Homo sapiens: one gene and its partners. The protein of the gene in region 1 interacts with the protein of each later gene in a pairwise test. Each region holds a gene or a part of one and is shown in the gene's direction. Other genes may lie near its edges.

What was found.
Region 2: the proteins of SLC71A2 (region 1) and TIMMDC1 interact in binary tests that used the Homo sapiens proteins (3 or more experiments, as listed by UniProt).
Region 3: the proteins of SLC71A2 (region 1) and RNF24 interact in binary tests that used the Homo sapiens proteins (3 or more experiments, as listed by UniProt).

The regions. Positions count from the first base shown.
Region 1 is NC_000009.12:94,447,378-94,454,845, forward strand, and holds part of SLC71A2 (hippocampus abundant transcript-like protein 1), read left to right. Parts: intron 1-4,078; coding exon 4,079-4,150; intron 4,151-6,580; coding exon 6,581-6,693; intron 6,694-7,468.
Region 2 is NC_000003.12:119,501,160-119,508,627, forward strand, and holds part of TIMMDC1 (complex I assembly factor TIMMDC1, mitochondrial isoform 1 precursor), read left to right. Parts: intron 1-2,372; coding exon 2,373-2,461; intron 2,462-2,794; coding exon 2,795-2,862; intron 2,863-7,468.
Region 3 is NC_000020.11:4,012,478-4,020,097, reverse strand, and holds the start of RNF24 (RING finger protein 24), read left to right. Parts: upstream 1-4,539; 5' UTR 4,540-4,661; exon of another isoform or gene 4,662-4,953; intron 4,954-7,620. UniProt on the Homo sapiens protein: May play a role in TRPCs intracellular trafficking.

The DNA.
Region 1 (7,468 bases):
CCGTGTTGGCCAGGTTGGTCTCGAACTCCTGACCTCAAGTGATCCACCCGCCTCGGTCTCCCAAAATGCTGGGATTACAGGCGTGAGCCACTGTGCCCAGCCTGTTTTTTTTTTTTTTTTTTTTAAATAGACTATTTTTCTAGAACAGTTTTAGGTTCACAGCAAAATTGAGAGTAAGATATAGAGATTTCCCATATATCCCCTATCCCCATACATGCATAGCCTCCTCCACTATCAACATCTCCCACGAGGGTGGGAAATTTTTACAACTGATGAACCTACATTGACAAATTATCTTAACATAAAGTCCACAGTTTACATTAGGGTTCATGCTTAGTGTTGTACATTCTATGGGTTTGGACAAACGTATGATGACATGATAACATGTATCAACCCTTACAGTATCACACAGTGAATTTTCACTGCAAAAATCCCTTATGCTATGCCTGTTTATCTCTCCCTCCACCACCAACCCCTGGCAACCACTGATCTCTTTATTGTCTCCATAGTTTTACCTTTTTTCATACAGTATGTAGCCTTTTCAGATTGGTTTCTTTCAATTAATAATATGCATTTAAGGTTCTTTCATGGCTTGATAGCTCATTTTGTTTTTGGCATTTGTTTGGATTTGCCAGTTTATCCATTCACCCACTGAACGACACCTTACTTGCTTTAAAGTTTTGACAGTTGTGCATAAAGCTGCTGTAACATTCATGTACTGTAATGTTTTAATCTTTAATAATATTAATTAAATTTAACAGATAAAACTTATTTCAGACCTGCCCTTGTTCCAGGTCTGATTGAAGCCAGCTTGCTGAGGCACCTTCAGTAGGTCATAGCTCAACTGCTGCTGTGGACTTCAGGGGGACTCAAAAGCATTAATCAAAATCTTCCCTCTCTAGAGTATTTTACACTTTAAAAAAATTTATACCCTATTTTGTCCCCCAAAACAGATAATTGACTTAAAGCAATTAAAAAAAAGAAAACCAAAAACTTCCCCTTTCAACTGTTCTTCAGCTCTCTGGGATTGCTCAGACCTAAGCTGCCTTTCCATTGCATCCTGTGGTCTTTTACTGATTTCATTGGAAGGCAGGCCTTTTCCTAATGGTTTACTTTGACACAGCAAGCTTCCTCCTAAGATAAATTCCTCTTTTTCTGGTTGTATTTAAAAATGAAGTGTATTAAATTCTTCATTCTGATAGTTTTCCTGAGGGTATGGGACTAATATTTTACGTGGTGGCATATAAATAAAACCTTTTTACTTTTTTATTGGAGACAAGAGTCTTGCTCTGTTGCCCAGGCTGGAGTGCAATGGCGTGATCTTGGCTCGCTGCAGCCTCTGTCTCCTGGGTTCAAGAAATCCTTGTGCCTCAGCCTGCCAAGCAGCTGGGATTATCGGTATGCACCACCACACCCAGCTAAGTTTTGTATTTTTAGTAGAGACAGGGTTTTACCATGTTGGTCAGGCTGGTCTTGAACTCCTGGTCTCAAGTGATCTGCCTGTTTCAGCCTCCCAAAATGCTGGGATTATAGGCATGAGCCACTACACCCGATCTTTCCCAGGCATTTCTCTTTTGTTCATTTTTGGTGGTTGTATGCTAGAGATTTAGAGGGAAGAATGGTGAGATAGTGTAGAAAATTATACTTGTGTCTAAATTAATTTGTGCATTACATTACATATGCATTTAACACAGAAAATAATGTAGGAAGATGAGACAGTCCAAGGAAGAAAGCTAAAAAAAAAGTTACATCTCTTTATGTAGGTAATAAACAACTATGACTATTTTATTCTTCTAGCTTTTCTCCTACACATATGCTCATGTCACCACCACCACCAATTATGACAAATCGGAATCATTCCATATTATTTTATATTATTGCTGGCTGCTAAGAACAATTAACACACTAACATTTTAGTTAAATTTGCATGTGATATTTGAAGATCATATATTTGATAAATAACTTGTATCCAGAATACATGTAGAACTCTTATAATAAAAGACTTAATAGCATCTTACAATAACTCAACAATAAAGAGACAACTCAGTTGAAAAGATAGGCAAAGGATTTTGCAGAGAAGATCTACAAAAGGCCAATAAGCACAGGAAAAGAAGAATAACATTACTAGCCGTCAAGGACATGCAAGTCACACCAACAATGAGATAACCATTTCACATGTTCTAGGATGGCTATCAAAAAGACAGACAAGGATGTGGAGAAATCGGAGCCCTCATACTTGCTGGTGAGAATGTAAAATGGTACAGCTGCTGTAAGAAAACAGCCTGGCAGTTCCCCAAAATATTCAACATATAGTTACCATATGACTCAGCAAATATACTCCTAGGTATATATACCCATGAGACATGAAAACACACTTCTAACACAGAAACTTGTACACAGATTATCATTCATAATGTCTAGAAAGTAGAATCAACTCAAATGTCTATCAGCTAATGAATGGATTAACAAATATGCCTATACATTAGAATGTTAATTATTCAGCAGTAAAAAGCAATGAAGTACAGATACGTGCTACAACATAGGTGAACCTTGACGACATGCTCAGAGAAAGAAGCCAGTCACAAAGTACTGCACATTGTATGATTTCATTTATGTGAAATGCCCAGAATAGGCAAATCCATAGGGACAGGAAGTAGACTAACGGTTGGGGGATGGGAAGGTTAGGGGAGTAGAACTCCTAATGGCTGCTACGTTTCTTTGAGGAATGATGAAAATCACTTTTGATTGTGCTGATGGTTGCACAACTCTTTGGATATACTAAAACCATTGACCTACACACTTAAATGGGTGAATTGTATGGTATTTAAATTCTATCTTAATAAAGCTCTTTAACAATAATATATATTTACAAATAAAGGCTGAGAATCCCTAAATCTACATTTTCCGGTTCCAGTTTTTAAAACTTCAAACAAAATGTTAATGTCAGCAGCACTGGATTGGCTGTCCAGAGGTTCTAGCCCTAGGACTTTTCATTAGCCAGTTGTGTCCCTGGAAGCAAGACACTCATTTGTGAAATGAGAATAATGTATATAATTTAATCCCATAATTTTTAAGGTCCTTTTCCTGAATTTTAATATAGGGCAAAATAATGTAACTTTTTTTTTTTTTTGAGATGGAGTCTCACTTTGTCGCCCAGGCTGGAATACAGTGGCACAATCTTGGCTCACTGCAACCTCTACATTCCAGGTTCAAGCTAGTCTCCTGCCTCAGCCTCCTGAGTAGCTGGGATTACAGGCACACGCCACCACGTCCAGCTAATTTTTTGTATTTTTAGTAGAGACGGGGTGTCGCCATGTTGGTCAGGCTGGTCTCGAACTGCTGACCTGATGATCCGCCTGCCTTGGCCTCCCAAAGTGCTGGGATTACAGGCGTGAGCCACTGCACCTAGCCCCAAAATAACGTAACTTTTAAAAAACTTGATATTTAAGTCTTAAAAGTTGTAGACATTTCGGAGATACTGTTACGGTCAGAGGCTTAGAAATCATTGCCAGGTTACTTTGGCTGCTTATTAGAATCACCATGGGAGCTTTTAAAACATACCTGTGCCCGGGTCATACCGCCAGAGAGCCTGATTTAACTGGTCTCCAGTGGTCTTCCAGCATCTCACTGCTCTCCTTCCCTTGCTCTCCTTATCCCTTGTCTTTTGCTTACATCATGATTTTAATGTGCAGGCAAAGTTGAGAGCCACTGGCTTTGCTAATGAGCAATGCTGTATTGGCAGCATCAAAAGTCAGTCATTTTGTTTCATTTTTTATTACTTGATACCATATTTATCAACTTGTGGGTTGGGGATGGAGAGGGTATATAAAACAACAGGTAGACATATAATAGAAAATGTCTATAAAACATTTCACAATTTAAGTTGTGCCTGCTTATAACGATTTCTTACATCAGTTTTAGATATAAATTACTGGTTATATAGGTTCAGCTTTCAGCATGTCTTAATTTGCCACTGGTTTTATGAATTTTCCTAGACTTATCATTGTAATAGAACATAATATTTCTTATTATTTTATAATATCTATATTACTAAAGTGTTTTCATTTCATTTCCATAGGTCATAGGTTTTGGATCTGTTAAAATTGCAGCATTCATAGCTATGGTAGGAATTCTGTCTATTGTGGCTCAGGTGAGTATCATTTTATCTATACTTAAAAAATTTAAAAAATATCCTGATAACCATAGTTTCACAGGAAGCCACATATAAAAATGCAGGAAGATATTCCCTGAGCTGCTACCTCAGTCCCTCACCCCCTGCTATGGTAAGGTCTTGCAAGCTATAGTATAATATCAGATCAAGAAACTGATGTGAATGTGGTCCACAGAACTATTCCTTCTTATATAATGTGTAGAGGTTATTTTCTTTTTTGAGGTTGTAATTTAGGGGAAATTTTTTATGTTTTTATTTAAAACAATGTTTTTAAAATTATATCCTTGACCAGGCAGCCCAGCCTGGTGACTGGCATCCACTCTTGTCTTCAGCCTTGCCTCCTCAGCTCAGGGGCCCTGGCCCCGATGCCACTGCCTAAGTCTCCTCGGAAGCCACAGTGGTTCCCCATCCCAGGCCCCTGGGGGCCTCTGGTGCTCCCCTTGCACCAGCATCATCTGCCATTTAGTGTTTTCTCAGAAAAGATGATTTAGGAGAACTTTGATACAACTTTCCCTACTTTTTAGAATATTTGTCGTAACCTCTGCTGGGTCAATTATTTTATTTGCTTTTACACCAACCAAAATAGTAAATAATTATAATCTATCTCTGGATTGCAAAATCAACTAGGAAAATGGTTCAGTGTTATTTTAATGTTGAAAAGTAAGTAGAAATGAAAAGCAGAAATGAAAATCTGTAACTGCTTTAACTCCGACTGTTCCCAGGACTGAAGAAATATGAATCAGAGCATTAAAACATATTCAGTGAGGGCCAGACACGGTGGCTCACACCTGTAATCCCAGCACTTTGGGAGGCCAAGGCAGGTGGATCACCTGAGGTCAGGCGTTCCAGACCAGCTTGGCCAATATGGCGAAACCCTGTCTCTACTAAAAATACAAAAATCAGCTGGGTGTGGTGGCATGTGCTTGTAATTCCAGCTACTCAGGAGGCTGAGGCAGGAGAATCGCTTGAACCTGGGAAGTGGAGGTTGCTGGGAGCCGAGATTGCGCCACTGCACTCCAGCCTAGGTGACAGAGTGAGACTCCATCTCAAAAAAGAGAGAGGGAGAATATATATATATATATATTTTCATATATATATTCATATATATTCATATATATTCATATATATTCATATATTCATATATATTCATATATTCATATATATTCATATATATATAATAGATATTATATATAAATATCTATTATATATAGGTATTGATAAATGATTTTCAGTGAGTAGAGAGCATTAACCATTTCCCTATCTATTGTAAATACAGTACCAGAAAAGATGAAGCATATTGTCCTTAAATTAATTCACTGTTGTGCCAAGGCACACTCACTATATTTTATGGTACTGCCTAGGGGTTGTTTTCCCTGAAATGGTTACCAGGAAAGCAGAGCATTCTTCTGTGGTAACCTCTCTCAAGGAGAAATGAGAAGGCCGCAAAACTACTACATTTGACAAGGCTTATGGGAATGCATCAAAACAAAGGCCGTTTATATTTTTGTTTTTGTTGAAATGTGTTGCAAATGTAAATTATGTTAACCTTTCAAGTTGATCATTTTGGTTTTTTACAAAATCAAACATAAACTCAGCCATCTTTTTTTTTTTTTTTTTTTGACACGGAGTCTCGCTCTGTCACCCAGGCTGGAGTGCAGTGGTATGATTTCGGCTCACTGCAACCTCTGCCTCTCGGGTTCAAGTGATTCTACTGCCTCAGCCTCCCAAATAGCTGGGACTACAAGTGTGCACCACTATGCCTGGCTAATTTTTGTATTTTTAGTAGCGACAGGGTTTCACCCTGCTGGCCAGGCTGGTCTCGAACTCCTGACCTTGTGATCTGCTTGCCTCGGCCTCCCAAAGTGCTGGGATTACAGGCATGAGCCACCACACCCGGCCAGCCCAGTCATCTTTCATCCAACCCCTTTTTAGACTTTCTCAACTAGTTATATTTAGCAGAGTATATATTTGTTAAAATCAAACTTACATCCCAATTCCAACTTTGTAAACTTCCAGCAGAAGCTCTCATATTCTGTAAATGTTCAGCAGGAGTTTGCTATTCACAGATATTTAAGTGATTAGTATTTCTCCAGAGACTGAGGCTGTCCCTCTCAGTCATGGTAACTGGTGAACAGTTGTGATATCCTTTCAGGAAGTGCCAGCAGAGCACCAGGTAGACAGGCTTCTTAGGGAGGAGGCTGAAAGCATTGAGCCCCAGGTCAGGCTGGGAGCCCCCAACACTCCACCCCTGTAGAAGGTCATCAGTACTGTCCAGACTCTGAGGTTGCAGGTCAGGCAGTGTGCCCTTAGAGGTCTCTGGTCATCAGGGAAGGGTCTTCACACACAGAGCTTGTATTTTAATTCTGTGTGTTGATGTGGTTTTTCAGAGTTGTCTCCTTTACTTTGCAGACGGCCTTTCTTAGCATCTTGATGAGATCATTAGGAAATAAGAATACTGTCCTCCTTGGCTTGGGCTTCCAGATGCTCCAGTTAGCCTGGTACGGTTTTGGATCACAGGCCTGGTAAGCCTCACTCTTAGATTCTCGTGAACTGCCAGACAGATGCCTCTTAGAGGAGCTTGGGGTGGTTGGGTGTGATGAGAAGGAAGCAAGGGTTATTTTGCTGGTTTGGTGTATTCAACATTGCAGAAACCATTAGGCTTTAATTTGGGGAAATGTGGAGCTAGATAACAGGATTATTTATAAAGACTACCTTTATGTCATTGGACTTTCACGGAATTGTTCCTTAATTGAATGTATCTCTCTCTTCCCTCCAGCCCCCAAATAAAGTTTTATGTCTACTTTTTAAAGCATATGCCAATTTTTTTTTCTTTCCCTGAGACGGAGTCTCACTCTGTTGCCCAGGCTGGAGTACAGTGGCATGATCTCAGCTCACTGCAACCTCTACCACCCGGATTCAAGCAGTTCTCCTGCCTCAGGCTCCTGAGTAGCTAGGATTACAGGCATTCACCACACGCCCGGCTAATTTTTGTATTTTTAGTAGAGATGGGTTTCACCATGTTGGCCAGGCTGGTCTCAAACTCCTGACCTTGTGATCTGCCTGCCTCGGCCTCCCAAAGTGCTGGGATTACAGGCGTGAGCCACCGCACCTGGCCACATATGCTAATTTTTAGAGACATTGAATATAGTCAAAAGCAAAACAAGAAGATACAAAAAAAATGACTGATTATGGCAAGCTTCACTATGACTTATCATTACCTATCAGTAACATAACCTTGATAAATCATTTGAGTTTGAACACTAAAATTTCTTCCAAAACCATGTGCATTCTGCCGCA
Region 2 (7,468 bases), on another chromosome or scaffold:
CCTCATTCACAAAGCCTCCATGAGTATAGGAGCTCACACTAAAGCAATAGTTAACATTTATAACTTTATAGAGTGCTAACTCGTTTGTTACATCATTAGATCTGTACATCAGTTCTTTTGTGAGAATATTAAAGCTCAGAGAATTTTTAACTTTTTATTTTGAAATTATAGCAGGCTTGAAAGTTGCAAAACTAGTACAAAGATTTCCTATATACCTTTCATCCGGATTCTCCATTGTTAACATTTTACCATGTTTGTTTTATCATTCTCCCTCTGTATAATATGTACTAATTTGTTCTGAGCTACTTGACAGTAGGTTATAGACATGATGAATACTTCAGTGTGTTATTTCCTAAAAACAAGGAAATTCTCTTATACAACCACAATTATAATATCAAGATCAGGAAATTAACACAGATATAGTACTATTATCTTATTTAAAGACCTGTAAATTTTGCTAGTTATCCCACAGTATCATTTATTTTAAAAATAAATAAAAAAATGTATTTTTCAGAAGTTAGGCTTGAGTTCTTATTAAAAAATTAATTAATTAAATTTTTTTTTGTCTGGTCCAGAATCTGACCCTGGATCACATGTTGAATTTGCCTGTTATGCTGCTTTGGTCTCATTTAGTCTGGAAGAGTTTCTCTGTTTTTGTCTTTCATGGCCTTGACTATGGGTGATTTATTTTGTAGAATGTCCCTCAATTTGGGTTTGTTTGATGGTTTCTCATGACTGCATTCAGACTATGTTTTTTGACAGGAATACCCTAGAACTGAAATTAAATTAGAAACCCATGATATCTCTGTCCCTTTACTGGTGATGTTTACTTCAGTGACTTGCTTAAGATGGCCTCTGCCAACTATACACTGTAAAATTACTATGTTTTTCCTTGGTAATTTATAAGTATTTTGAGTACTTGTTAGTTCCTTTGAGACTATGTAAATATCCTGCTTTTCATCAAATTTCTACTACTTAAATGCTATTATAAACTATAATATTTCTACTATCTAAAAACTATTCTAAATTCTTAGCATTTATAATTTTTTTATTTTTTTAAAAATTATTTATTCCTTTATTTATTTTTTGAGACAGGGTCTCACTCTGTTGCCCAGGCTGGAGTACAGTGGCACAATCTTGGCTTGCTGCAACCTCCATTTCCCAGGCTCACTCGATTCTCCTGTCTCAGCCTCCCAAGTAGCTGGGACTATAGGCATGTGCCACCATTCCCAGCTAATTTTTGTATTTTTTGTAGAGACAGGGTTTTGCCATGTTGCCCAGGCTGGTCTCAGAGTCCTCAGCTCAAGCAGTTCACCCCCTCCTTGGCCTCCCAAAGGGTTGGGATTATAGGTGTGAGCCACTGTGCCCAGCCTATTTTTATTTTTTAATTAATTAATTTTTTTTTTGAAATTTTTTGAGGCAGGGTCTTCCTGCCTCAGTGCAGGCTGGAGTGCAGCGGCGCGATCATAGCTCACCACAACCTCAAACTTCTGGACTCAAGGTTTCCTCCCGCCTCAGCCTTCCGAGTAGCTAGGACTGCAAACACACACCACCATGCCTAGCTAATTCTTAAATTTTTTTTGTAAAGGCAGGATCTCGCTATGTTGCCCAGGCTGGTCTTAAACTTGTCGGCTCAAGTGATCCTCCCTAGTTGCCTCCCAAAGTGCTGAGATTACAGGTGTGAGCCACCATACCCAGGCAGTTTTAGCATTTAATGATGATTCTTCCTGTAACAATTATGACTGTGGTGGCCAAATGGGCATTTTCTAAAGTCTATCATTCTTTCTACATTTATTGGTTAGTATTATGCTCTAAGGAAGTGTTTTCCCTTCCCCCCTCTATTTACATATTTATTTATCTATTTATAATTTATTTCTATCAGTAGGGACTCATGGATTCTTATTTTATTCTGTAGATTTATAATTCATTACAGGTTGAGCAGCACAAATCTGAAATCCTGAATGCTCAGATTCAAAACTTTTTGAGCATTGACACGTCATTCAAAGGAATTGCTCATTGGAGCATTTCAGATTTCGGTTTTTTGGATTTGGGATGCTCAACCAGTAAGTGTTAAAAGCGCATATTCCCAAATCTGAAAAAATCCTAAATCCAAGTATCAGATAAGGGATCTGGTCTCAAGTATCAGATAAGGGATACTCAACCATTTTTTCATCTCCTGATAGGATAGGCTACACATGGAACTTTTACGTAAGCCTCAATACTTAAAGAATAGTATTTCTAGAGATTTTCTAGTATTTCTATCTGTTTGGGTGTACCTGACTAATCCATAGCTAAAATTCCTCTACCGCAGTTCTAGAATAAGGAAAATATGATGGTGTCTTAGAACCTCACAGTTTTTTAATTAACTTTAGCAATCTGCACATCGTGCTGCCACACGAGGCTTCATTCGTTATGGCTGGCGCTGGGGTTGGAGAACTGCAGTGTTTGTGACTATATTCAAGTAAGTTCACTCTGAATTGTGAGATAGTGAATTTTCTTGATATTGTTTTAGGAGTGTGTCTTTTGAGCAGGTGGGGTTATGAAAACTGAATACCCACATGAAAGTGATTAATAATGCCTTTTTTTTTTTTTCAAGAACTTTTCTCTGTGTAAAAGACTGGTGTAGTTATGGTTTTACAACCATGTCTGGAACACATTGAAGGGGCCTAGGCTAGGAACAGGGATTGATATAGTAGGCTTTTCTAAATCTATTAAGTCAGTGAAAATAACACTCAAGAAGGTAAATGGGATATGCTTTAAATCTTATATTTTCCTTCTCCTCCCTTTTTACCAGCACAGTGAACACTAGTCTGAATGTATACCGAAATAAAGATGCCTTAAGCCATTTTGTAATTGCAGGAGGTAAGACATTTTTGTTTATATTTTTCAGTCTTCTCAAATACAGTTTAGAAAATGTGTAAGGACTTATACATCAGAACTACTGAATTCTTTGGTTGGCTTCCCATTACATCTCATCAACATTGATGCAAAATGTATTTATGGACAGTGTTGTGCTTCACCCTTGATATACTCAATGGGCAAAACAGCAAGGCCCTTGCTTTCTTTGAATTTTAATGTCTAATATGTATGTGATAATACAGGTTGTTGTGATAGAAAGTAACAATTCGGTGGAACAATGGGATCTCATATGGACAGGGTAGTCAAAGAAGGCCTTTCTGAGGAAGTGACATTTGAGCTGATACCAAAGAATAGGAAGGAGCAAGACTTGCAAGGAAGGGTGTCCTAAATAGAGGGAACATCAAGGGGGAAGGCTCTAAGGCAAAACATTTCCTTAAAAGCAGGATAATAACGTGGTGAGTGAGGGAAAGAGTAGCTTGAGATGAGATTGGTGAGGACTATAGGAATGGACTAGATTTTTTATGGTAAGAACTTGGATTTTATTTTAAAGCTCTCTGCCTCTAGTATATATATGTATATTTTCTTTTTAATGAGCATTAAAAATAGAAGGTACAATGGTGATTACCAGAGACTGGATATGGGGTTGGAAAAGATGTTGGTCAAAGGATACAAAATTTCATTTAGACAGGAGGAATAAGTTCAAGAGATCTATTTAAAACATGGTAACTATGGTTACTAACAGTGTATTGTATACTTCAAAATTGCTTTTAAAAAGTAGATTTTGGCCAAGCGGTGGCTCACACCTGTAATCCCAGCACTTTGGGAGGCCAAGGCAGGTGGATCATCAGAGGTGATTTGAGACCAGCCTGGCTAACATGGTGAAACCCCGTCTCTACTAAAAATACAAAAATTAGCTGGGTGTGGTGGCAGGTGCCTGTAATCCCAGCTACTTGGGAGGCTGAGGCAGGAGAATCACTTGAACCCAGGAGGCAGAGGTTGCAGTGAGCTGAGTTCACGCCATTGCACTCCAACCTGGGCAACAAGAGTGAAACTCTTGTCTCAAAAAAAAAAAAAAAAAGTAGATTTTAAGTGTTCTCACCACAAAAAATAGTATGTGAAGTAACGTGTAGGTTAATTAGCTTAATTTAGCCATTCCCCAATATATACATACTGCAAAACATGTTATACACCATATGTGTACAATTTTTACTTGTCAGATTTAAAAAATAATTTTAAAATGAGCATTCGTTTCAGAAAGGTAAGTTAACTGCTATATACACTCAATCACTAACTTGTGTACATTCTTTTATGTACAACACACATATGTATTCTGAACATAAGTTTGTTTTTGTTTTTTTTTTTGAGATGGAGTTTTGCTCTTGTTGCCCAGGCTGGAGTACAATGGCGCGATCTCAGCTCACCACAACCTCCGCCTCCCAGGTTCAAGGGATTCTCTCCTGCCTCAGCCTCCCTAGTAGCTGGGATTACAGGCATGCGCCACCATTCCCAGCTAATTTTTTGTATTTTTAGCAGAGAAGGGGTTTCTCCATGTTGGTCAGGCTGGTCTCGAACTCCCGACCTCAGGTGATCCGCCCATCTCGGCCTCTCAGAGTGCTGGGATTACAGGCGTAAGCTACCACGCCCGGCCTGAACATAACAGTTTTTAAATGTTTTTTTGGGAATAAGCTTACAAAAGATTGCAAAATAAAAATAATACAAAGGGCAGTCTCTATCCTTCACATACAGAGACTTAGCCATTGTTAACAATTCATGCTGAGAATTTATCCGAAATTAAGTCAGACAACTTGCTTTATCTTCTTGCTACTGCATGCACTCTCCCTCTTCTCTGTGTATATGTGTACACACATGGGAAAACACACAATTTGAACTTTTTTTTTTAACTTTTAACTTCAGGGGTACATGTACAGGATGTGTAAGTTTGTTACTTAGGTAAACGCGTGTCATGGAGATTTGCTATACAGATTCTTTCATCACCCAAGTATTAAGCCTAGTATCTTAGTTGTTTTTCCTGATCCTCAAACAACATTTTAATGAAAACTTTTTAAAATACAAAACTAGAAATAGGCATTAATAGCGTTAGAGCAGCCAGATTGTTTCATTTTTAAATTTGCAAGCATTTTTACATGGGTCTTGTCTACCCACTTTTACTTCCTTACTTGCTCCTGCTGTTACGTTCTCTGTCAATTGTTAAATGTGAAAACCAGGCCAGGCACAGTGGCTCACGCCTGTAACCAGCACTTTGGGAGGCCAAGGTGGGCAGATCGCTTGAGTATAGGAGTTTGAGAACAGCCTGGGCAACAAACATGGCAAGACCGTGTGTGTGCAAAAAGTTATCTGGGCATGGTGATTCATGCCTGTAGGCTCAGCTACTCAGGAGGCTGAGGTGGGAGGATGGCATGAGCCCAGGAGGTCGAGGCTACAGTGAGGTGTGATCATGCCACCTCATTCCAGCCTGGGCGACAGAGCGAGACCCTGTCTCAAAAAAAAAAAAAAAACTAGAAACCAAGGAATGATATGGTTCTGCTCTTTTTTCTCTTTCCACTTCTTGTCCTATTAATTATACTCATTAAATATATATGGATTCTTTCACTTCTTTTTTCCCACTGCTACTATCTTATCGTCCCTGTTTCTAATCTTGATGTGCTCTACCTGTAACCTAGTTACATTTTTGAAATATGAATATGATTTTGCCACTTTTCTGTTTGAAATTCTTCTATAGTTTCCTGTCACTTTAATGTCAATTCTTGATCTGGCTTCCATGCGCCACTCTTTTGCTTTCACTTTACAATCTCCTCGGATTTCCCAACATGTTCTTTCCTTTTGTGAATCAGTCCCTCTTCTTGAATGCACTTTCCCACTACCACAATTAATTTTGTTCGGCTCCTACTTAACCTTACCTTTCAAAGTCCAGATCATTTGTCAGCCTCAGCTTCCCTAGAGAGTTCTCCCTAGCCATTTTCTCCCTAGCCATGTTTAGTTCTATTTAGCTGTCTTTCCCTTGTGTTCACATACTTCACTGTTTTTTTCTTTATCTTTGATTTTCTGCAGTTTGAAAATGATATGCCCAGGTGTAATTTTGAGGAACATTTACTGTGCTTGGTGTTTTCTGAACTTTCTGGATCTGTGGTTTGTTGTCTGACTTAATTTAGGATAAATTCTCAGTGATTGTTTCAAAGATTTCTTTAGCTTTCTCTTCTCCTTCTGGTGTTCTAGTACACTTATACCTTTTGTAATTGTTTCACAGTTCTTGGATATTTTATTCTGTGTTTGTTTGTTTGTTTGTTTTTGGTGGAGGAGGTTCCCATCTTTTTTCTCTTTGTCTTTCGGTTTGGGAAGTGTCTGTTGATAATGTCTTCAAGCTCAGGGATTCTTTCCTCAGCTGTGTCCAGTCTACTATTCTTCAGTTCTGTTACAGTGGGTTTTTAAATTTGTTTTATCGCTAGCATTTCTTTTTGATTCTCTCTTCGAATTTCCATCTCTCTGCTTATATTGCCCATCTATTCTTGCATGCTATCTACTTTATCCATTAGAGCCCTTAGTGTATTAGTCATAGTTGCTTTAATCTCTTCATATGGTAAGTCCAGTATCCCCACCATATCTGAGTCTGGTTTTGGTGCTTACTCTCTTAGTTTTACTTGGTCTCTTCAAACTGCTTTTGCCTTTTAGGATGCCTTGTAATTTTTTTTCTTGATAGCTGGACATGATGTACCTGGGTAAAAAAGGAATTATGGTAAATAGGTCTTTAGTAATTTGGTATTAAGATGTGGGAGAGGGAAAGTGTTTTGCAGTCCTATGATTAGGTTCTTAGTCTTTTAGTGAGCCTGTGCTTCTGAACTGTTAACTTCACAAGTGCTTTTCAGTTTTTTTCCTCTCCTTTGGTGGGACAGGATACTACAGTGGGTTGGAATGGGTATTTCCTTTCTCCCACATGGGAGGCTAGAGCAGTTGCATTTGGATATTCCCCAGGCTGGTTAATCTCTGACAAAACCCCAATAGTTTGGGCTGTGCAAAACCATTTATCTTGAGGGCAGGCCTTAGTGAGAATAACGGAATGTTCTGGCATATTTCAAAATGGTTACTTTTCTTCCCCCTTGCCAGAAGCCTGAGGGGATTTTTCTCAGATCTTTACTGGGAGAACTTGGTAGAGCTCCTGGAGTGTGGGGACCCTCTATGATTGGCTCCCCTACAGTTTTTAGGTCTTAGACTTTTCTACACTGAACTTCCAGCAATTTATCATTTATAGTCAAGGTTTCCTACTCTGGTACTGGTTTCCATGGAGGCTTCTGCTCGTGGGTTTCTGCTCTAATAAGGTGTGATTCTCTGTATTTATCTGTCTGTCTCTCCTATTTTGAGGGCAGCAGTTTACCCATGATCTCACTTCTTTGGTGGATCTAAGAAGAGTTGTCAGTTTTTCCATTTGTTTAGCTTTTTACTTGTTGTTAGGAATAAGTGATAAACTCTAAACTTCTCACATGCCATACCAGAAACTGGAAGTCTCCCTTTCCTTTTTGCCCCACATCTTGACAAGCTGATAAGAAAGCCCAAGTGCTACCTTGGTTGACACCAGCAGGAAGTTTCAACCATGCAA
Region 3 (7,620 bases), on another chromosome or scaffold:
ACAGTGAGCCAAGATTGCACCACTGCACTCTAGCCTGGGCGACAGAGAGACTTCATCTAAAAAAAAAAAAAGAAGAAGCAATTCCACCCCTCCGTGGGCAGCGTCACGCCCCAGCAAGAGGTCCCCATGGGCTATGAGGAGGAGAGGGCCATTGGGAGGGATCAAGGCAGGAGGAGTCACTTTGGAATTCTTGGATGAAGAGGCTCGGGGAACACAGAACATCTCCTCCTCTACTGGCACAGTCCAACGGGTCAAAGCATTATATGATCAACCCTTAAAGGGGTCATTTAGAACTCTGAATAATTAAGCTTTCAAAGGATTGACCAGTGGGAGGGATGTTTTTCTGAAATCGTGCCATCTCAACAGATGGGGAGGATGGACAGAGGAATGGGGCTATAGGCAACCTTTGATTTCTAGCTTCTGTTTGAAAGACTGATTTTGTCTTGACCAGTCAGGCATTCATTCAACAAACTTGTATTGGGCACCTGATCCAAAGATGACTAAAACCAGCCCCTGTTCTCACTGTTCCAAAATTAGTCAGACGTTTGATTTAAAAGTAGTTGTGATTTCTTTTCCAGGAGTCTTGAAGGACTTCTGACCATATGGGTAGGGACAATTTTCTGAGATGGATTTGGGGTGAGGACATTGCTTAAAAGGAGGTATAAGGGCTGGGCGTGGTGGCTTACACCTGTAATCCCAGCAATTTCGGAGGCCGAGGCAGGTGGATCACCTCAGGTCAGGAGTTTGAGACAAGCCTGACCAACATGGAGAAACCCCGTCTCTACTAAAAATACAAAATTAGCTGGGCGTGGTGGCGCATGCCTGTAATCCCAGCTACTCAGGAGGCTGAGGCAGGAGAATTGCTTGAACCTGGGAGATGGAGGTTGCAGTGAGCCGAGATGGCGCCACTGTACTCCAGCCCAGGCAACAAGAGCGAAACTCCATCTCAAAAAAAAAAAAAAAAAAAAAAAAGAGGTATAAGGGAGGAGATGGGAGGGGACTGTGGGGAGGAAGGATAAAGAGAAAGAGGGGCATCCTCCGAAACTCCAAACAGTGAAGTCTTCCCTACCCTACCCCTACCCATCATGTGGAACAAGGAAAATGTTAGCTGCGAAGCCACCACTTCAAGTCCTAGCTGCCTGCTGTTTTGAGGTACCCACCTAAACCCTCCAGAGAAAGAATTGCCCACCCACACTCTCCCATCACTTGCATTTTGCCTAGACCAGTGGGGGCTGGGAGTGGTGGGGGGATGAGTAGACTCATGTGCATCACTAAGCAAAGAGGATCAGGGACTAGCAGGTGAACCTCCAGCCGGAAGCACCAGGAGGACAAAAACTGTGATTTCTTCCTTAAGGGGAACACGGGACAACCCGCTACAGGGGACAGAAGAGCAGGATCCTGCCATATGTTGTAGAAACTGTGAGGCCAGATTCCACCTGTCCAGTCCCAAAGGAAAACTTTCTCCTTGACCCTAAAAACCAGTTGGGCCAGTTGATGACACAGCAAAATTTTAATAAGATGAGTCTCCCTGAAAACAGCAACTGGACACGGCCCCTCCTCCTTCCGTTCATTCTCTCATTCTCTTTCCCACTCACCCCTAATTTTTTCAAGAACAAAAGACATGAAATGAGCCACTCCATCCTCTACCCTACAGCCTGATTGGACTAGTGAATTACTAGCCAAGCTTTCTAAACAAACAAACAAAACAGGTTTCCAAACGCAGGGCAGAGGAAGGAAGCCAAAATAAGGAAGAAGAAAGAAAAGGAGCTCAGCCTTTCCTTCTCCTGTGGAGCCTCCCCAGCCCACCAGGGAACATCACCTCCACCAATAGCCACAGCAGACCCACTATGTGCCAGTCACATATTAGGTCCTGGGAGATACTGATCCTGCTGATGAAGGACTCACATGCTGGTGTGGTAAGAAAATATGCAAATGAGCAGGGACCTTGGAGGGTGCCTAGTGCTGAGAGGGAAGTGGGTACAGGGCACAGGTGGGGATTCTCAAGGAAAGTCTGTCAATAAGTGGGGGCAGAAAAAAATACTTTATCAAAAATGACTTTGTAAATACTTTACTTTTTTTTAGAGCAGTTTTAAGTTTGCCACAAAAGTGAGAGGAATGTGCAGAGTTCCCAACTAGCCCTTCCCCCCTACACATACATAGCCCCCCCATTATAAACATTCTCCCACGGGAGCATTTATTACTATTGTTGGACCTACATTGGCACATCATTATCACCCAAAATCCATGTTTACATTAGAGTTTGCTGCTGGTATTATTCATTCTATGGATTTAGACAAATGTGTCATGACAGGTATCCACCATTATGGTATCATACACAGAGTATTTTCACTGCCCTAAAAAGCATCTGTGGATTTTCAGAGAAAAGAGCAACTTTTGCATGCTAGGTAAGTATTGCTTTCCTAGTAGGGGAACAGCAGGAAACAGCAGTCACCTTGGTGACTACTGAGGTGAAACACCATGGTGCTGTTCTGTAAATGGCTGGAAAATAAGGCTCAAGGAGCCAGATGGGGCAGGGAAAAAGAAAAAGACAGAAACACAGGCAGATTTGAATACCATGAGAATCGATTTGCATGAGAATGGATTGAGACTTCTGCAACAGCCCAGGGGAGAGATGAGGGGGCTGATTTAGAACAGTGAGAGGTTTGAGCAAAGCAAAGTTGAAAAGACCCTCCAGGTAACTGCTATGATTGACAGCAAGGAGGGCAGTGTTCCCCCAGCACAGCCCTGGCACAGGCAGCTCTAGAGGAAGCCTGGGTCTCCCACTCCCTTCCTTTTGCCACAGTCTCCCTAGCACATGCCTCCACCCTTCTCTCACTTTGGGGGACTGTGACCATTGGGTGGCAGGTGACTTCTTGAGAAATTCACTAATGTTTCCCTCTTTACTTCCTCCCTGCCTTGGTGGTTAATGGTTTGCCAAAGCAGAAGGAACATGCCTCTAGGCGCTTGCCATGATGACTTTTGCTTCCCAAAGTTAAGCTACTGAGCTGTTTATGGTTTATGTGATGGGGCCTGAGAGATTAGGAGAAGGAAGGAGAACTTCTGGGGGACACATGGAGACTGAGGAAGAGGGGGCAATCATTTTTGCAAGCTCTGAGCTGCAGCGCACACACAGTCAGCTGTGGAGCTTCACAGCCATTCCCTCTGCAGGCTCCTAGCCTCTCCAGAAACTTCCGTACCCCAGGAGTGGCAGACACAAGGCGATGGGAACAAGAGAGTATCTGCAGAATACACTGCCTGCTAAAGACAAGAGAGGACTCCCCAGATCCTTGCCTTGGTATTGCAGGAAGAGCTCAGCCTCCCAAAATCGGAGGTCAATTTATTGCCTGCCCTGTAGAATGGGAGCCGGAGGTTGAGGAGTGGATGTAAATAAAGGAATGCACTGTTTCTTGCACACACCTCTCTCCACTATCTGGGCAGAGTCTAGGTCTCATCCATCACCAAGGTTCTAGCACTCAGCTGAGAGGCTGCAGCAGGAGGGGCAGATGGAGGAGGGTGCGGTGCATACCATCTCCCCATCAAACCAATGGGCACCACGTGACCATTCTTGTGTCTCTGGGGACTGTCAATCTGCATGCTAGGAAAGGGGTGGCATTCCAATCTTTCATTTTTTTGTGTGTGAGACGGAGTCTTGCTCTGTCACCCAGGCTGGAGTGCAATGGTGCGATCTTGGCTCACTGCAACCTCCGCTCCCCGGGTTCAAGAGATTTTCCTGCCTTAGCCTCCCGAGTAGCTGGGATTACAGGCATGAGCCACCACACCCAGCTAATTTTGTATTTTTAGTAGAGACAGAGTTTCTCTATGTTGGTCAGGCTGGTCTGGAACTCCTGACCTCAGGTGATCCACCCGCCTTGGCCTCCCAAAGTGTTGGGATTACAGGCGTGAGCCACTGCGCCCGGCCCCATGCTTTCACTTTTAAAAATGCTTGTAGGGCACGCAAAAATACTAAACGGTCGATGGAGAAGGTCTGTCTGGAGTAGTTGTTTTTTTTTTTTTTTTTTGAGACAGAGTCTCGCTCTGTCGCCCAGGCTGGTGTGCAGTGGCACGATCTCGGCTCACTGCAAGCTCCGCCTCCCAGGTTCAGGCGATTCTCCTGCCTCAGCCTCCCAAGTAGCTGGGACTACAGGCGCCCGCCACCACACCCGGCTAATTTAATTTTTTGTATTTTTAGTAGAGACGGGGTTTCATCGCGTTAGCCAAGATGGTCTCGATCTCCTGACCTCGTGATCTGCCCGCCTCAGCCTCCCAAAGTGCTGGGATTACAGGCGTGAGCCACCTCGCCCGGCCTGTCTGGCGTAGTTCTAACCAGGAACAGAGCCAGCGGCCAGGGCCGCACCAGGCCTGGCCAGGGAGCGCCGCGCCTGCGCACTGCAGACTCTGAAGCCGCCGAGCCCTCCGCCGAGGTGGGTGGGGAAACTGCCCGGGCATCCGGGTCCCTCACCCCGCCCCCGCTGCATGAATGAGAGGCGCGGCGCCCGCCCCTCCCCCGGCGGGCCCGCCCCTCGCGAGGGGCCGCCGGGCGCAGTCAGCCGCCGCCACCTCCGCCGCGCTCTGTCCGGACGGACGCTCGCCGCCCGCAGCCTGCCGCCCGCCGCAGGGCGCTGACGGTCCCGCACGTCTGCCGCTGCCACCGGCGCGCCCGAGTAAGTGAGCGAGCGAGGGCGGGAGCGCCGCGGCCGCCGCCCCCGGGCTGGGGTTTGGGGGACCGAGCCGCTCCGGGTTCGGGATGCTGAGGAGACCGCGGGCCCGCGCCAGCCTCCCACACACACACACTCTCCCGGCGCCTCGGCCGGCCGGGCGCGGTGTGCAGGGGTGAGGCGGTGTCTCCAGGCTGAGGAGGGACGCGGAGGAGGGTCCGGCGCGGCCCCGGGACTGGAGGGTGAGTCCCTCACAAAGGGCGGAGCGGGGCTGTCACCTGGAGATCACGGAGGGAAGGTGCGTGGGCCCCCGCACGTCCTGCTCGCCCAAGCCCTGGCATCGGGTCCCCGGGCGTGGGAGGCGGCTGGGATGAGCTGGGAGGCTAGGAGGAGGATGGCGAGGACGCTGCCCCCGCGTTGGCGGTGGGCGCGCGCCTTGGGGGGTGCGGCGTGGCAGTGTTTTCCTGGTCCCCGTCCACTCCTCCCCTTTCTTTGTGGCGCTTGTCTCGTGCCCCGTTGTCACAGTGTGCATGGCAGTGGTCGGGGTGGAGACCTCTTCCCTCGGCTTACTCATTAATGAAAGTCACCATCTGTGGGCAGGGGGCGTGTGTGGTTCCACAGGCCGGAGAATTAAGGACCCTCCTTTGTTTCTGGAGACCTAATGATGTGTGTGTGTGTGTGTGTGTGTGTGTGTGTGTGTGTGCGCATTCAAGTGAAAGGGACATCTATGAAATGAGAGAATCAGAGATTGTCAAAAAGGGTATGAGGAAAAGGGGAGGGGATATAACTTCATCACACCTTTACCCAATTCTTTACCTGATGTTATTTCAAACAGTTTTTTCTCACTGTAAAACCAGTGGGTTTTATTCATTGGAAATGTGCATCTAAATTCTCATATATCTGTGTTTCTAGAATACTTTGCCTTTTTGGGCTTAGTTAATGGTAAGATTCTCATGTCTGTCTACATAGGAATACTCCACCGTACAGGACACTGCTTTCTGGGTTTAGTTCATTGATAATTTGTCCGAATGCTCATAAACATGTCTATAGGAATACTCCAATATATCTAGGACACAGTTTTCTCCGCTCCTGAATACAGGCAGATTTTGTTTCTTTCTGCCTCCCTGTGTTAATGAGAAGGTAGTCCAGCAGGTTCTCTCTACCTCCTTGCTTTTTTTTCCCCTTAATGCTTTGGCAGAGGGTTTTATTGCATATTACCCTGGCATGCGCCCTTGCTTTGATGTGAATTTTCCTGTGTTCTGTTGTCTGGTTGTACAGCCCAGCTCAATGGCTCCTCTTACAGGACTACTGGAAAACAGAACACCTTTTTTCATTGTCCTCATCTCCAGAGAGAGAAGGAAGCGCTGTAGGTTCCCACAAACGTTGACTCTGTCAGACTGCCTGCCTGACTTTGTTGTGTTGGTAAAGTTATGAAGAGTTGCAGTTGTTGTAGACCAATTAAAAAGAGGCTATTGGGATAACACCAGCTCTTCCTTGCTATTTTGGTTTTAAAACAAATGATATGAATTTTGCAAGATAGTTGTTAACTCTGGTTGCATGATGATTTTCAGTTTCTTTTTACCCATATACTTTTACAGGGTGTTGGGAAATTAGCCACTCATTTACAAGAAACACACCTCCAAGGTATTTTTATTATGGGTCGGGTGCGGTGGCTCACACCTGTAATCCCAGCACTTTGGGGGGCCGAGGTGGGTGGATCACCAGAGGTCAGAAGTTTGAGACCAGCCTGGCCAACATGGTGAAACCCTGTCTCTACTAAAAAAATACAAAAAATTAGCCGGGCATGGTGGCGAGCGCCTGTAATTCCAGCTACTCGGGAGGCTGAGGCAGGAGAATCGCTTGAACTCCCGGAGGCGGAGGTTGCAGTGAGCCTAGATCGCGCCATTGCATTCCAGCCTGGGCAACAAGAGCGAAACTCCGTCTGAAAAAAAAGCTATTTTTATTATGATCTTTGGATTCAAAATAGCGGTTTTAAAAAATTAAGAGGCGCTTATATTGGATGATATGAATAATTGTATGGGTTCTGTTTTCTTTAAGATTCTCTGTAATATTTTTAAAAATCACATGTATTTTAATTCCTAGTAGTTTTCAGTGGAAAATGAAATGTAAACTAAGCAGTCTTCCACAGCATCTGTTTATGTATATTCCCTCTGTTTAAAACATTTGCTTTTAATTTGAAGGGGAAATTTTCCATGGTCAGTTCAGGATACATTATTCTTAGTAAAATTCTTACCACGTTCAAATTCTTTTTTGTAAGAGTAAAAAAAAATTAATGAAAGTTGATTTTTCAATTGGGGATGTTTTGGTTTTAATGCATGATTTAAATAAAATCTTAATATCAATTAATTTAATTCAGATAAGTTAATTTAAAACAAGGCTTTTATGAAGGAAAAATGAAGCAGAAAAAAAAAAACAAGAGCTTTACTAACTAAAGTCACTAATGTTGAAGTAACCCAGTACATTTATAAACTGCCTGTCTTGACTGCATAAGACATTTTTTAGGAGTCTCCTTAAAACAAACCGTAAGGGGAAGTCTTAGATAAACAGAGTAGCATAACCGGAATTATCACTGAAATAAGCTTGCACAGTATCGCAATTTCATGGAAGTTTAATTTTGCAAGAGTGACTTAGCTATTTTTAATATCAACAAAGGAACCTAAACACAGCCTGGCCTTGTTATTCAGCATTCTGTTAATCAAAGTATTTGCCAACCCATAGTTTAGCATTCTGTAGTATGATGATTGAAGAAAAAATCTAAACTAACTTTTAGATCCTTAAAATAGATAAAATAATGTTAAGTGCTGTTTTAATAGTAAATATTTATTCATTAGAATAGTAATATTATGTTAGTGATGGTAAGAGCATAGATGGTAACACTTTGTTAACTAGGATCTATTATCCTCCCAGTAATGTCTCATAATAAAAAGTAATTTATTTTTCCATT